Linked DNA regions of Homo sapiens: region 2 is linked to region 1. Evidence: fine-mapped expression QTL. A gene starts in region 1. The other region holds a variant in brackets. All regions are shown on one strand. Distances are between the middles of the regions.

Region 1 (8,329 bases):
TTGGGCAAGTTATTAAACTCTGAGACTGTTTTCTGAAGTGTAGGATGGAGATAATACCTATCTCACGGGACTACTGTGAGTTTTAAATGAGCAAATATGTTAAAGTGCTTCAGATAGTGCTTGGAACATAATAAATACTTAGCAAATGGTAATGATGATTAGAAAGACTCCTGGTTTGGTTTCAAGATTTCAGAAATGAAGCTTCATAGGACCCCTCAGGGCTATAGGTGGAACTGGTCACGCTGACTTAGGAGGAACAAGTGGAAAAAGATGGCAAAAGTTTTGGAAAAGAAAAATAGGTGAAGAGTTTGTGATAATAAGGACAACCTTTAGGGTTTAGGAGACACAGAACTAAGTGTGTCTTAGTTGTAGCTGTACTACAGCACTGCGGGCATGGCTTTTGTTTGCTTTGTTAATAAGGGGCATTTTTCAAATCTTGGTGGAGAGGGGAGGGCATAAGAACAGGAGATGCCTGAGGTATAGAAGAGAGACAGTTTTCTGAGGCTCCAGAAAAATAAGCCATGGCTTTAGTGTTCCAGTGAGCTAGATTTCAGTGTTTCTGAAAAAAATAGCAAGTATACATTTCAGGAACACGGGTCAATTTGAGGTTAACATAGCTTGAGGAAAAAAGTAAGTTTCACTGGTTCTCTCCAGTGATTTTTAAAAAATATTTTCCAATTCTGTGATGCACATGTCACAGTAGGCATTATGGCACATTTTGCTGTACAGAAATGTCAATGAAACTTGTCCAAACTTAACATAACCTACTAACAGCTATTTTATCACAAAATTCCAGGTAAATGTGGCCACGGGGATGTTTTCTTAATCTGTGCATTTGAAACTTTGATCACATTGTGAATGTCCCAGTGGGTTTTTAAGATCCTGGAATAGTTGCATCTTTTTTACTGTTGTTTATTTCCTTAGTCAATGTATTAGAACTTGCAGGTACCTTATTTTGCAGATGTCTTGGAATTGGCTTCAAAGGACAGACATGCATCTTATATGACTTTTGGCTAATTCATGGTGGGTAAATCTGACTTTAACTGCATGGAGAATGATAATGGTGATTTTAAACTACTCTTGAATGAGGCTTTGGAGGGGAAGAAAGGGCATGAATGATGTGGAAGCTGCTTGGGAGCTGGAGGGGACAGGGCAGCGCTCAGCAGGGGTGTGGAGGCTCCTGCCAGATCCCTTATGGGACGTTAACCCCATCATACAGGGGATCTTTGAAGAAACATTGGGTCACTAAGGTCAGAGATTTATGAAGCTCCAGCACCCTCGAGGAGTCCTCTTTCCCTTGACCATGGGAACAATAGGCGAAAGACAAAGGCGGCCTCTGTATTTCCCACCTTAGGAGCAAGAAAGGGAGCAGGAACCCTTCCACTTGGCTCTGGAAGATGTGTCTTAAGCACAGACTGCGGATGCAATCCTCTCACGAGCAGTGATTCAGAATGAGGTAAGAAATCATGTGGGGGCAAGTCTCATTCAACTGTTTAGGGAGGGCAGTAAAGTGGTCTGAGGTGTCTACATAAGTACTGAGAACGGGGATTATTTAATAGAATTTTGCAATCTTAGAGCTGGAAGGGACTTCAACAGTAACCTCGTCCAATCTTTGCGTTGCCATGGAACTCTTTCTTCAAACAAAAGCTTCGTAAGAGCCCAAATACAAACCCCTGTGAAAGCAGAATTGCTCTGGTTGCAAAGTGGGGGAAGGGAGAGACAAAAAGAAAAAGTTTATTTATAAAATAAACTTTAAAAAATCATCATGGAAGAAAACTTTTTTATTTATATGTATATCATAGAAAGGCTAAAGTAACATTGATCACAAAAAATAAAATTCCCCAAACCAATAGATTATTAGTTTATACAGTGAAGATACTTTGGCTCTTTAGGGACATTTTTACTTGGAGTCACGAGAACAGAGAATATGACTTTTAGTCACACGGAAATGAGCCTTGGATGGGAATTTTTAAGATTTATGGGAACTGTGTGCTATGCTGATTTGGGACAATAAGCGTTCTAGTCCCACCAGGTGGCGCCCGCGTTCGGCATTCTGAGAACGTTTGGTGTCTTCTGGACTCCAGAATCTGGACGGTCCGACCGCCTCGTGCTTGGTGGGTTTACAAACTCTGACTGGTTCTTACCACCCATCTAACAGGAAATTTTTTTTTTTTAAAAACAAACCAACCCATAAAACATCTGACCAGATGCCACACTCAAGAAAACACTTGTATTCGGGTGTTTTAACCTCCAACGATGGAAATCTGCTTAACATTGGTGTTTCTGAGGTGTCTTAGCATCAGAAAAGGAAAAAGACACATATACACACATTCTAAGGAAAAAGTCAGGAAGGGCCTTGCAGAGGTAGGTCCTGGTGCGGCAAGAGGACGGTTAGGCGTTAGAAGCTTCTAGTTCAGGCTTTGCCGCTTCATGCTCATGAGGAAGCGCGGCTCCTTTGGCCTCAGTTTCCTGCGCTGCCTTCCCGTCTGTGGCTGACTGTTGCAGGGTAGTCAGACAAAGGCCCAGCTTCTATTCTGCATCCCAGCTAAGTCTGTAAAAGACGAAAGTCGTCGGGTACCTCCGTTACTGAGATCAAATGTTCATAAATGGAAGCATCGTGTCAATAAATGGGTTTATTATTATTGCTTTCTTATGTAACTCACCAACCCCCGGAGGGCCGTCCCCGCGGTGGGAAAGCCTAAAACAATACACATATGTTTTCACTAATTTAAAATTCATATTGAAGCGGGACGTTTTAGAACTTCCAGGACGCAACGTGCTATTAAGGGACCGTGAGGGGCGGGCAGCCCTTCTGAGATCGCGGGCTAACTGCTACTTTCACCCCTCCTTCTCCGGACCCCTCTCTCCGTCTACAGCTCGCGCCAGGGACCCAAACAGCCTAGGCCGCGAGCTCCTCGCCTCCAACCTCCCGCCTCCCGCGCCAGTACTAGCACCCGCTAGGAGCGCCGCGTGGCCTTTACCGGCCACGGGCCCCGCCCCTGTGCGTCAGCCCGTAGCTGCGCCGAGGCGTTTCCCGGGGGCGTGCCGCGGTTGCTAGGCGACCAGACCGCTCCCCCTCCCGCCCCTGGAGCTGCGTCTCCCCACTTCCCAGCCGGGGCCAGTCGGGAGCGAAAGTGCGCTGAGCTGCAGTGTCTGGTCGAGAGTACCCGTGGGAGCGTCGCGCCGCGGAGGCAGCCGTCCCGGCGTAGGTGGCGTGGCCGACCGGACCCCCAACTGGCGCCTCTCCCCGCGCGGGGTCCCGAGCTAGGAGATGGGAGGCACAGCTCGTGGGCCTGGGCGGAAGGATGCGGGGCCGCCTGGGGCCGGGCTCCCGCCCCAGCAGCGGAGGTAACGGCGCCACGGGGTAACGGGCTGGAGGCGCCACAGGGAGCGGCTGGCGCTGGCAAGCGAAGCTTGGGGGTGGGGAGGAGGTAGAGTGAGCCCTCAGTAGGAGGGACGAGGGCAGGGGTCTGACTGCCTCCCCGGGACCGCCCCCACCTCCTCTCTATCAGGGCCCCCTCCCCCCATCCCTGTCTCACCGGGCGCGGGGGACGGGGCTAGAGCGGAGTTAGAGCAAGAAGAATTTCCACCCCTGGATTCCCTCTGAAACCCTAGATCGGGGTATATGTTAAGGGATTACGAAAATCTAGGACTTTTTGTGGGGCTTTTTATTAAAGGGGGGGAGCCCGGGAGCAATACCTTGGAAAGAAGCCCTGTTGCTTAGAGCGGATAACCAACGGCTGAACTCTTGGGGTTTGCTGTGAGGGGTGCGGTCTAGCTTCGAATGTACAGGTTATGGGCTATGCTGGGTACGGCTTTCTCCGGATCCTATTTTGAGAGATTCCCCACCTTGCGTTGTATTTTACACCTAAATGGAGAGAAGAGACCCTTGCTCCCCGCTTTATTTGCATGCAGACTCTTGTTAATTTCCTCTGGCTGTTAGTCACTAGGCAATTTTGCACGTTTTCTTTTTCTTTATATATGTGGACGCCTATCCTGGTTTGTTTTATCAGGCTTATGGCAAAGGGTCAGTCACATCCAGAATATTTGGTTTCTGTTGGTGAAGCCATTCCCTGTTAAAAATATAAATAATTCTATCAGAATGTGAGCATGTTTTTAAAAAGAGCATTCCAAAAATATTTGTAGCGGTTTTTTTCCCTTTATATTTTTATAACACATCTATAAAGAAAACTCTAGAATGAATTTCACAAAACAGTTTTTAAGGTGACCAGAATATTCCAGGATATTTTAAAAGACGTTAAAAAATTATTCCTCTGCAACATCATCATTGTTATATTCATAGTGTATCATGTAAAATGATACAATGAAATGCTGATGTGTGTAACTGGGAAATCCGTGTTCTTGGTAGCAGATGAAATACATTATTCAGGGCCATCTTGTGGATTAAATAAATCCTCTCCGTCTTTTGTGTTCCCTTACAGTGGTGGAGCCACAGTGTTAAAGAACAGAGAAGTGATCCTTAATCATTTAGAATTTTGCCTCCACCATCCACCAGAAAATGAAGTGGAAAGAGAAGTAAATTCAATACATTTTATAATTTAGAGCATCCTTTTAGCGTTTGCTGTAGTACTTACTGTATTTTTCTGCAGGTTAGGTAGATGTAAGTAGGTAAGTAAGTAAATGAATAAAGAGAAGACAGCCTTAAAAAGGCCTTTTATTTCTTGCCTGTAAGACCCAGAAGTGTGAAGACTGGAGCTAGTCTTCCCATTAACATGGGGAAGACAGGCTCAGAGGAGAAGGTAGCACTGGGGAAGACAGGCTCAGAGGAGAAGGTAGCACAGCCAGTGTTAGAGCTGAGATTAGAATCCAAGTCTCTGACTTGAGAAACTATTACCTCTGTTAGTTTTTTCTGGTCTGTTTTTTTCTCTGTGAGCTTCAGTTTCAAACTAGCCTTTATTTTCAAGTAGTAAGTTATTATGAGATCCTTCTGATAGTCCTTATTGTGTTTAACAACATTCAGAAGGACTTGTTTCAACTGTTTTAAAATACAAACCTAGAAATGCTGTCCTTGAAAAACAAAAGTTGGATTTCCTCTGTACCTCTTCCAAATACCCCAGTTGTTTGTATTCAGTGCCAAAATGTAGTGTAGACATTTATTTCTATTACTGTTCCTTGTAGCAGATATGAAGCAGTTAAGACATAGGATTCTATATTCTTCAGTTCCTGACAGATTTTGTCTGTAATCCTTTTAACTAGGTTGGGGGATGGTGTCTATGACACCTTCATGATGATAGATGAAACCAAATGTCCCCCCTGTTCAAATGTACTCTGCAATCCTTCTGAACCACCTCCACCCAGAAGACTAAATGTAAGTAAAAGAAGTCATTCTTTGTACATGAATTGTTTTGGAAAGGAGGAAGTGCTACTTAATGCTCAAGGTACACTTATGTATCACTGACAACCAGACTTTTTTTTGGTTTATTTTTGATTTCTCTTGACTTTGGAATAACAATGTCTGTGGTCCAAATTTAGCTTTTCAGAATGATTTCAGTTTGGAGCTCACCTTTTTATTTCAGTTTCCACTGGGATAAATATATAGCACTAGGAAAAAAATAATATGCTACTTTTATTTAGGTAATGCTTATTTTTGTATAGGATGATATACACCTAGTATTACAAAGGCTCCTTTTAACAAAAATAAGAAACAGAAAACATGTCAGAATTCATAGATCTGCAGGAGTTTTTTTTCCCCTGCACGGTGGAAATGCAGTCTTCGTTTATTAGTATACTAAAGAGAACCATTTTATAGATAGATGATAACTACAACAGTTTGGTTTTTAATGCACTTAATCATTTTGGGGACTGCAGACACTTAGCTTTTTTTTTTTTTTTTTTTTTTTTGAGGTGGAGTCTCTCTCTGTCACCCAGGCTGGAGTGCAATGGCATGATCTTGGCTCACTGCAACCTCTGCCTCCCGGGTTGAAGTGATTCTCCTGCCTTAGCCTCCTGAGTAGCTGGGATTACAGGCGCGTGCCACCACGCCTGGCTAATTTTTGTATTTTTAGTAGTCAGGGGTTTCACCATGTTGGTCAGGCTGGTCTTGAACTCCTGACCTCGTGATCCACCCGCCTCGGCTTCCCAAAGTGCTGGGATTACAGGCGTGAGCCACCGTGCTTGGCAGCTTTTTTTTTTTTTTAACTTAAGATAAAATTAATTTGCATTCCTTCAGCATGCATAGAGTGGTAGGCAGAGCAGGGTTTGGCCAAGTTCCATGACAAAGAGAGGCTATCCTATGACTTTAAAATTTCCTGCATATGTCATCAGATGAACAAACTGAATAATTGAATTGACTCATTTGTAATATTTCTCTTTCACGTTTCTGTGTTTAAGACCTGAAATTGTTTCTATATGGAAAAATCACTTCTATTTTTCATAGTCCTTCCTGTGGTCATCAGTTTTTGCTTAAAATCAACCTTTTTCCTTTTTTTTTTTTTTTTTTTTCCTGAGACGCAGTCTTACTCTGTCTTCCAGGCTGGAGTGCAGTGGTGTCATGTCAGCTCATTGCAACCTCCACCTCCCGGGTCCAAGCAATTCTCCTGCCTCAGCCTTCCTGAGTAGCTGGGATTACAGGCGACTGCCACCACACCCAGCTAAGTTTTGTATTTTTAGTAGAGACAGGGTTTCACCATGTTAGTCAGGCTGGTCTAACTCCTGACCTTAAGTGGTCCACTTCCCTCGGCCTCTGGAAGTGCTGGGATTACAGGCGTGAGCCACCGCACCCGGCCCTTTCCCCACTTTCAACACTAGTAGTATACAAAACGTGAGCTAAAAATATTTTGAAGGCTGGTCACCCTATTTTTCGTCCCCTTTTTGGAGTGTAGTGGGGTTTCTTTCCATTCTTTGCAAGTTGTTTCTTTAATATGTCAAAATGTCTAAGAACTTCAGAACCATATACATCTTGTGTTGCCCATCAGATTGCTTGGTTACTTGCTGCCAATTGGTTCACCTCTATAGGAAACTATTTGCAATTGGGTTGAAGTGTTAACATCTGACTTTAAGTCATTTTAACTGATTTTTTTTTTTTTTTTTTTTGAGATGGACTCTCACTCTGTCACCTAGGCTGGAGTGCAGTGGCGCAATCTTGGCTTACTGCAACCTCCCGGGTTCAAGTGATTCTCCTGCTTCACCCTCCCAAGTAGCTGGGATTATAGGCACCAACCAACATGCCTGGCTAATTTTTGTATTTTTAGTAGAGATGGGGTTTCACTGTATTGGTCAGGCTGGTTTTGAACTCCTGACCTTGTGATGCACCCACCTCAGCTCCCCAAAGTGCTGGGATTACAGGCGCAAGCCACCGCGCCCAGCCAAGTCATTTTTACTTTGATTCAGAGTTAGCCGATGCTATTTACCTTCCAGTAGGTTACTTACATTGTATGTTTCAGGATCAAAAATTAATTTCTTACTGCATGGTGTTAGGCATGACAGTTTTGTGAGGGAGCAAGAAGATTTTAGATGTCTTACTCATTACTCATTTCTTTTTTTTTTTTTTTTTTTTTTTTGAGACCGAGTCTCGCTCTCTCGCCCAGGCTGGAGTGCAGTGGCACAATCTTGGCTTGCTGCAACCTCCATCTCCCGGGTTCAAGCAGTTCTCCCTGCCTCAGCCTCCCAAGTAGCTGGGATTACAGGCATCTGCCACCATGCCTGGCTAATTTTTGTATTTTTAGTAGAGATGGGGTTTCACCATGTTGGCCAGGATGGTCCCGAACCCCTGACCTCAGGTCATCCACCCACCTCAGCCTCCCAAAGTGCAGGCTTTACAGGCGTGAGCCACCACGCCTGGCTGTCTTTACTCATTTTGCTGAAAAAGAAAATAAAAATAAAAAATGCCTTTTGACCTCTTGGTGCCACTTACATTTCATTATGCCATGACTCTATCCCGAGATCCTGTTACTTTTTTTTACAAAGTTTTCTAGCTTCATTTATTCAAGATGCTCCTACATTCTCATGGTAAACTATAAATCATCTGCCCATAGGCTTTTATTGGGTTAAGTTTTGTGTTACAGGGATTTAGGGTTTGGGAGCTGGGGAAAAGGTAGGGTTTTATATCTGAGTGAGAAGGATATTCCTTTATTCCTTTTCAATTTCTCAGCAAGATTTTTTTTTTTTTTTTTTTTTAAGACAGAGTCTCGCTCTGTCACTGAGGCTGGAGTGCAGTGGCACTATCTCGGCTCATTGCAAGCTCCGCCTCCTGGGTTCATGCCATTCTCCTGCCTCAGCCTCCCGAGTAGCTGGGACTACAGGCACCCACCACCACACCTGGCTAATTTTTTGTATTTTTAGTAGAGAGAGGGTTTCATCGTGTTAGCCA
Region 2 (8,329 bases), 22 kb after region 1:
AGAAGCCAGAACTACAAATGCATCGTCTAGACTTTGAAGAAGCAGGGTATGATTCTTAATATAGCCCACCCATCGCTAAGTCAAGCCTAGACTCTAATATTTTTCTATAACAGGAGAAGCCTCCCTGACTGGAGACTAGAGTCTCACATCTTCTGCCACCACATGAATAGACTAAAAAGAAAGGAGAGTCCCACATCAGGCCAAGTGGTGACCTGTGGCTATTTCAGCTCAGAATGTCAGCCTCTGAAGCATCAGGTTTGAATGACTTTGGTGTCATGGGATTCTGTCCATTGTCCGTTTGAGTCTGCTGACATGCTTCCTCTGGAAAGTGCAGTTTGGCATGGATGAGTCAGTGGTTTTTTATTTTGGGGTGTTTTTTAAAAAATAAAAATGAATTGCTTTGAGAATTTTTTAGCATCCTGATTGTTTCAAAACCAAGGCTGAGAACTGTCGCAGGCAGGAACTTGTGTGCTGTACTCTGAAGGAGGTGAGTACCAGTCGCTGGGTAATTAGGGCTGTGCTGCAGGTACAGCCTCTCTTGCTTGATGACAATGATACAGAAAGAAAATCTTGGGAAGGGAAAAGGCTGCCCTGAGAAACAGCCTTACAGAGAGTCCACCAGTATTCTTCCTTTAGTACCCAGAGCTTCTGTTCACAGTCTGGTTTGTGAGCTCCAGCCTTGCTGTGAAGGAAAATGGGAAAACATGTAGAGTGCTCAGGGCTAACCATCTCCCAGAAACCCGAATCAGCAGCTCTCCCATTTACCCTCTTGGGGCCCAAGCTCAGCTTAAGGATGAAACCTGACACGCAATAAGGAATACAGTTTATTTGGGAAGTTTGGGTGTTTTTCTTAGGCCCAGACCCCAGTCTGTGGGATAACTTTTAAAGCCTGAGGGAATTGAGTAAATGAAAGAGGAAAACAATGTTCTTAGGGGTTGTGGGCTCTGCTCCAGCCTGCTTCTGATCTGGCCCTGAGCCACAATTGCCCTGGCAACAGGAGCTAATTGGATACCTAACAGGGACTGCCTTCCGCCACCCTTGAGTTGTCCCCTAGATTGTTGTGGCACGAATACAGTTCACTCCAGCCTTAACCTCCCTGGCCTCAGGTGATCCTCCCACTGCAGCCTCCCAAGTAGCTGGGACTACAGGCATGTATCACCATGCCCAGCTAATTTTATGTATTTATTTTTATTTTGAAGATGGAGTTTCACTCTGTTGCCTAGGCTGGAGTGCAGTGGCACGATCTCGGCTCACTGCAGCCTCTGCCTCCCAGGTTAAATGATTCTCCTGCCTCAGCCTCCCAAGTAGCTGGGACCACAGGCATGCGCCATAACACCCAGCTAATTTTTTGTATTTTTGATAGGGATGGGGTTTCACCATGTTGGCCAGGCTGGTTTTGAACTCCTGACGGGTAATCCACCCGCCTCGGCCTCCCAAAGTGTTGGGATTACAAGCATGAAACACCACGCCTGGCCAATTTTTTGTGTGCTTGTGCATTTTTTTTTTTTTTTTTTTTTTGTAAAGATGGGGTTTCACCACGTTGGCCAGGCTGGTCTCGAACTCCTGGCCTCAAGCCATCTGCCCATCTCAGCCTCCCAAAGTGCTGGGATTATAGGCATGAGCCACTGTTCTCAGCTTTCCCTGGATTCTTGAACAGGGTTTCTGCCTTATGGGACCCCAGCCTAAAGCTAGACATGGACCTTCCTATACTCACATGGAGCAACTCCAGGTTGGAGACATTAATTGCTGCTAGCGGAATTATAGAGCAGGCAGAATTTAAAAGAAAATTCAGCTTGCAATATCGCTGTTAAAATTTACCCATGATCAGGCCGGGTGCGGCGGCTCAAGCCTGTAATCCCAGCACTTTGGGAGGCCGAGGCGGGTGGATCACCTGAGGTCAGGAGTTCAAGACCAGCCTGGCCAACACAGTGAAACCCTGTCTCTACAAAAAATACAGAAGATTAGCTGGATGTGGTGGCACACACCTGTAATCCCAGCTACACGGGAGGCTGAGGCAGGAGAATCGCTTGAACCCAGGAGGCGGAGGTTGCAGTGAGCCGAGGTTGCACTCCAGCCCGGGCAACAGTGGGAGACTCTGTCTCGAAAACAAAACAAAACAACAAAAACCCCATGATCAAAGGCACCACAAACCAGGATACTCCCATGGCTCTTTATGCCTTTTAAGACAAAAACTATCAGCGCGTAGAAAAGGCAGTGAAAATGGCAATGAGGGCTACTAGTGCATTGCCCATTGCTTTTTACTTTCTAGGAAGGAATTTGTCAGTCCAAAAGCAGAAACATAAAGTGACTGCAGCTAGTCTGTGCAGATGCTAAGGACTGACCTTGACCTTCCAGTAGAGTGAGCCTGGACATGATTTGACCTCGTTTTGCAGAGGCTGCCCAGCCCTGCCTTTGAATCTGGCTGTTGATGATCTCCTGATTGAGGAGCAGATCCAGGACACCCAATCTGAACCACTGCAGAGAATTCTTAATCATTCCCAGGGTGGAGCCCTGACCCAAGCTGCACTCACTTTTGCTGTTCTCAAGCATGTCTATATAGGCTTTTGTTGGTGCATTGATTCTTTCACCAGTGACTTGAGCAACTGTTGTGTGCAAAAAAAGCACCCTAATGGCATTTATCAAGGATAGGGAGCGTCAGCAGCATTGTTGACCATATGTTTAGAATCTAACAAAAGCTAGGCCATGGCTTTAGAGAAAACTTGCCAGCAAGTTATCTGCACTCTGTTCTGGTTTAAAATTTGTGTAACTCTGTAAGTGAATGGGATGGGGAGGGGAGATAGTTTCAGAAGAGAATGTTCTCTGAGTCTGTGCATAGTATAGAGTAAGGGGCTTGTGTCCTGAGCTGAAGGTGGAGGAGAAAAGATGGTAGGAATGAAAGGCATGGAAGACATGCTATCCAGTAGCAACTTGGCTCTCACCACCCTCCGTTTCTGACGTTGAAGATGAAATGGGGTTACCCTTCAGGTTTCTCTGCCATGATTTCAGATCAGGGGTTTGGCTTTTTCTGCTCCCTCATCAAACTGATTCTATCCCAGATTAGCCATCCTGAGATCTGCAGGGGAGGAGGAACCAGCAGACCAGGCTTCCCTACTTCTCTTCCCCACTTCTCTTCCCCGATTCCCTCATTTCCCTCAACAAGTAGCTGGCTGCGTTGCTGTTTTCTCTGGTTGCTAAAACAACATTGCTTACTTCTGTCCCACCAACAATCCCAGCCAGAGACTTGAGACTGAGGTGAATACACGAGATGAATTCAGAAACCTCATCCCTGAGATCTTTCACCCGAGTTTTTGAGCCAGCGTCCCACATTGTCCTGGTTCCATTCCCCTCTCAGCAAACACTCTTCATTCATCCCTTTTCCCGTTGGAACTGAAGTCACTAGTTGCTGTAAAATGCCAGCGAGATGTCCAGGCAAAGTGGCATGAGTGAGAGGGAGGAGGCTTCAGAGCTCTTTGGAGGACCAAGAAGCGCAATGGACCACAGGTGCTTCCCCTCAATGCTGCTAAAATAATGAGGGGCAGGCGCTTCCGTGGTGGGTCTTCCTGCAGTCACAACTGTTTCCCAACCGCTGTGTCACACACTCTACTGCTACCCCTTCCTAGCCCAACCTGGCCTGGGGCAGCTGCATTTCAAAGAGAGGACTTCCTCTGTTCTTTATTTAGTCCCAGGCTTAAATTCTACTACATTCAGAAGGGGAGGCGCCGCTGTCGCTGGGAAAGCTGGGCCGGGGCCGGAGGGAGACACAAGGCGGAGATTTCCCAGACCACAGAGTCGAAGTTGTAAAGTTAGAAACCTGGTAGGGAACAGCTGCGGGAGCCTCCTGGGTGGGAAATGTCCTACCTCCCCAACCCCTGCGGCTGCACTTTCACGGGGCTCCCC[C/T]CAGGGGGCGCCAGGCCCCGCCTCCACCTTTCTCTGCCTTCTCTTCAGTCGCTCAGTAAATGCCCAGTGTACTCGGTGGGCCAGGCGCTGTGCTGGATCTATTCAAACATAACACACATATTTAATGGAAGGTCAAACATGTTAAGAATTGAAGTACAGTGAGATACATATGATGGTAGACATGAACTAGTGTCCTAGCCAAGTGTTCCTCAAAAGACCCATTCGGACGAAGCGTCCCTCACTAGCCATGACCATTTACTTCTCTTTGTTTCCCTTCTTTCTACCCTAGCCACCACCCCGCAGCACCAGTGACCACTCACTATCTCCAGTGCCTTCTGCCTCAGAGATTGCGAATGAATGGTGCCCAGGCTCTTCCCAGCTGAAGAAGTGGGAGGCAGAGTGCCCAGCTGGAGAGACCAAGCACCCGTCCCTTTAGTTCACAGCAGAGCCAGGGTTTATGACCCCTCCCTGCTGCGACCAACCCCACCCCGCCCCCACTGCCGTGTTTACAGCGCCTTTTCAGCAGTCCCCATCCCACTCCCCAAAGCTGCCAAATGGGTTTATTTTTACCTACTGGGTTGGAAAAGGGGCAAAGGCTGAGGCTGGGGCAGTTCTGTGGCGCCAGCTGGGGCTTAAATACAATGAGAAAGTCCCACCCTGCCAGCTCTGCGTGAAGAGAACCCAGTAGGAAATAAATAGCGCTGTGTGGCCTGCCTGGATGCCTGACCTGCATATGTCTGCCTGGACTCCAGCCCGTCACATGAGCCGAGGCGGGTTAAAAAGAGAGGTCGGGTGATCTCCCAGCTCAGGTATCTGTCCTGGCATGAGGAGCTGTGGGGTGAGGGTGCCAGCTCTTCTTTACAGGGCCTGGTGGACAGGGAGGCCCAGTGGGCAGGGGCAATTCGGGCCAGGGAGGGAGTGGGCCAGGAAGGGAGCCGGACAGGCGGACTTTGCCCCAGTGCCAGTCCGCCTCCAGCTATCAGCCTCCAGCTGTGGGCACTGGGAAAGGGTGATAACGTTCGTAAGGACACTGTGACTGCCTAACGTTGGTAAGGGCAGATGACTGGAAGGGAGAAAAAGCTTGGCAGAAGTTCCAGGACTAAATCTTAATTTGGCCAAAGCCGTTGTTTCCGTCACACCCCACCCGGTGCGTGCGCGCGCACACACACACACACACACACACACACACACACACACACACCATTGCATATCTTTTTCTTTCCCATAGCTTTGACCCCCTTCATGCATTCCTGCCCCCTCCTCCACCCCTTCCAGCTCAGAATGCTAGCATCTGCCTATCTCCAGCAACACAGACACTTCTCCCTCCTCCCACGCCTCTCTCCTGGGACTCAGGCCTGTGGCTGCTTCTCCTTTCTAGGCCTCAGTTTCCCCTTAGGCAGCATGTCTCAGATCCCACTCCCAGGGCCCTCTAGGCAATTTAGGCCAGGAGACAGTGGGAGGCTCCTGGGAGAAGTTTCACTTCTTTTTACTGAAGTTCCAGAACTAGGTTAAAGGATTCAGCAAGCTGAAGACCTCCCTGTTCAGATCTGAGTTCCCTGAGATGTTGGGGGACCTTGAGTCAAGAGGCTCATTTGCTCAGATCCTGTTGCTGAGGAAAGTACCACATATATTGTGGTTGGACCAGTGCAACCCCCAGAACACCTGTTCATTGCAGTGGGTTGGCTGGATAGGGGCGTCTAGGGATCCTGAAGGGACAGAAAACTTGCTCTGTGGGATGATACAGTGCTGTGGAATGGGGAGTGGAGGGAACAGGAGTTGTCGTAGGCCCCAAGATGCCTGAACTCCAGGAGCCCGAGCTAGAGCGATGGCCATGGCATGGGCAGGCAGGACACATTCAATAGCTCTCAACTAGATAATAGTTTTTTTTTGTTTTTTTTTTTTTTGAGATGGAGTTGTGCTCTTGTCGCCCAGGCTGGAGTACAATGGTATGATCTTGGCTCACTGTGACCTCTGCCTCCCGGGTTCAAAGATTCTCCTGCCTCAGCCTCCCAAATAGCTGGGATTCAAGCATGCACCACCACGCCTGGCTTATTTTTTGTATTTTTAGTAGAGACGGGGTTTCACCATGTGGGCCAGGCTGGTCTCGAACTCCTGACCTCAAGTGATCTGCCTGCCTTTGCCTCCCAAAGTGCTGGGATTACAGGCATAAGCCACCATACCCGGCCAATAGAATTTTTTCAAGAGAGAAATTGTCCCTCCTCTGTAAAAAACCAACTACAAGTTTACATATCTAATTGGTCTAGAAAAACAGTGGACATATAGGGAGGGAAACCAGTATAATTTGTAATTTCAAGGACTATTCTGGAACTCCAGACTCCATGGAGATTAATCCTAACACTGGGGACAAATGCCCATTTTCTCTGGTTGGGAAATTTAAGAAATCAAGGTGGAACTGGGCTATATGCAGAAGCATCTGACTTCCTGGAATATAATCAACAAATGTGATTCTGAGCCAGGTTGGGATCAATGCACCAATGTCAAGCAGGCATCTGGGGAGCCCTGACAACATGGAGCTAGATGTGGGGGTCAGAGACATTCCTGAGGGTACTGTATCTAATCCCCCTCAAGGTAGGATAACTGGGTAGTCGAAAGAAGACACCATTTATAAAATGTGGGCAGGGTTTCGGGAAACTACTAAGGGACAGTGAAGTACACCCAGGATAGCCACATGGGGCAGAAGGAAGGGAGTGGTTGCTGGAATCTTAGCGAGCAATAGCGGTGGATGAGGTTGTAGGAGAGAGCTGCCTGCCTGACAGAAGCTGTGGCTTTTGGTAGAGGATGGCAGGCACTGCAACCTCTGGAGAGTGGGGAGAAATCACGGGAATAAATGTGCTGGCCTCATCCTAGTGCCAGCTTATCTTACTCCTGTGCCTCCCATTGGCCTAACTTAATCGGAAGCCACGTCTGGTTGGCATAGTCAAAAAATGCCATCCTTGGCCAGGTGCGGTGGCTCACACCTGCGGTCCCAGCACTTTGGGAGGCCAAGGTGGGAGGATCACTTGAGCCCATGAGTTCAAGACCAGCCTGGGCAACATAGTGAGATCCCCATCACTAAAAAAAAAAAAAAAAAAAAAAAAATGCCATCCTCGTGGCACACAGAGCACAGTGTAGAAGGGTGGAGAGTGGATCCAGAGGGGCGAAGAGTATATATAGCAAATCTCTATGCTCCTAAGCAGGCAATTTCATCAGCATCAAGAAACTTTAATTTTTTTTTTCTTTACGGCCAGGCGCAGTGGCTCATGCCTGTAATCCCAGCACTTTGGGAGGCTGAGGCGGGTGGATCACAAGGTCAAGAGATCGAGACCATCCTGGCCAACATGGTGAAACCCCGTCTCTACTAAAAATACAAAAATTAGCTGGGCATGGTGGTGTGCACCTGTAGTCCCAGCTACTTTAGACTACAGGCACGCACCACCATGCCCAGCTAATTTTTTTGTTTGTTTTGGTAGATATGGGGTCTTGCTATGTTGCTCATGCTGATTTTGAACTTCTAGCCTCAAGCAATCCTCCCAACTTGGCCTCCCAAAGTGCAGGGATTAGTGAGCCACTGCACCCACCCGGCAGTAAACATTTTTTTGAGCACAAACCATGCACAGCCATTTTGCCGTGTACCAAGGATAAAACGCAGAAATGGATTTTCAGCAACCTGGTAGTCCAGCTGGGAGACAGAAGCAGAAGTGTTCAGGGAAGGCTTCATGGAAGAAGTGGGAATGTGAGACGGGGTGGAGGAGGGGATTGGAGGACAGGTGAGCAGAGCGCTGGGAGTACTTTCCTTCACTGTAGCAGAATGTCATTCAGCAACATGATCCACCCCAAGGTCAAGTTTCAGATCTTCCATCCCTGAGATTTTACATAATAGGCATGGTTAAAGATCCCCATGTGACTGTAGCCATGTGACTCCACATATTATGTCCACCTCACCTGGGAAGGATCAGTTTACCTAAATGTCATTCCTGCTGGGTTCTCTGAATGACAGCTGTCTTCCAACTCCAAGAGTGATGTCCTAATTAATCAAGCAATCCATCAATAAAAATTCACCGGCCTCATAAGTAAAAGGCACTGGGAACTTGGGCTACACCTCTTCAGAGCACCTCTTCTTCTCAATGAACTCACATTCTAACAGAACAGAGATATGTAGAAATGATTAAAGTGTGTTTGGTAGGAGGTGTAATGGAGGTACGAGTAAAGTTCTGGGAAAATGCAGTGGAGAGAGTGACTCATTCCTAGAGGTGTTAAAAAAAGGCTTCAGAGAGGTAATATTTGCACTGCAACTCCATTAATGAGTAGGACTTGCTAGGCAGAGGAGGGAATTCCTGGCAGAGGACTTGAAATGTGTGGAAACAGCAAGAAGGTGAGAAAGGATGGTGAAAAATTAAGGGTGGCCAGAGCCTAGGATGGCAGTAATTGAGTC

What was found. PIP is the estimated chance that this variant, and not a neighbour inherited with it, causes the effect.
Region 2: its variant is fine-mapped to the expression of DYRK3 in blood mononuclear cells (TOPMed, PIP 0.95).

Annotation. Positions count from the first base shown.
Region 1 is chr1:206,632,433-206,640,761 of GRCh38, forward strand. It overlaps DYRK3 (dual specificity tyrosine phosphorylation regulated kinase 3), which reads left to right and starts at 3,104. Exons shown (of 3, transcript NM_003582.4): 1 at 3,104-3,348; 2 at 5,218-5,329. The coding sequence starts at 3,272. DYRK3-AS1 (DYRK3 antisense RNA 1) reads right to left here and starts at 3,236. Exons shown (of 2, transcript NR_183645.1): 1 at 3,168-3,236; 2 at 1,764-2,551. RefSeq lists silencers at 2,964-3,383, 3,434-3,543.
Region 2 is chr1:206,654,752-206,663,080 of GRCh38, forward strand. It overlaps DYRK3 (dual specificity tyrosine phosphorylation regulated kinase 3), which reads left to right. Exons shown (of 3, transcript NM_003582.4): 3 at 1-407. Among named protein-coding and RNA genes, the nearest start is that of DYRK3-AS1, 23 kb to the left of the region's middle. The variant C/T (reference allele first, on the strand shown) is at 3,898.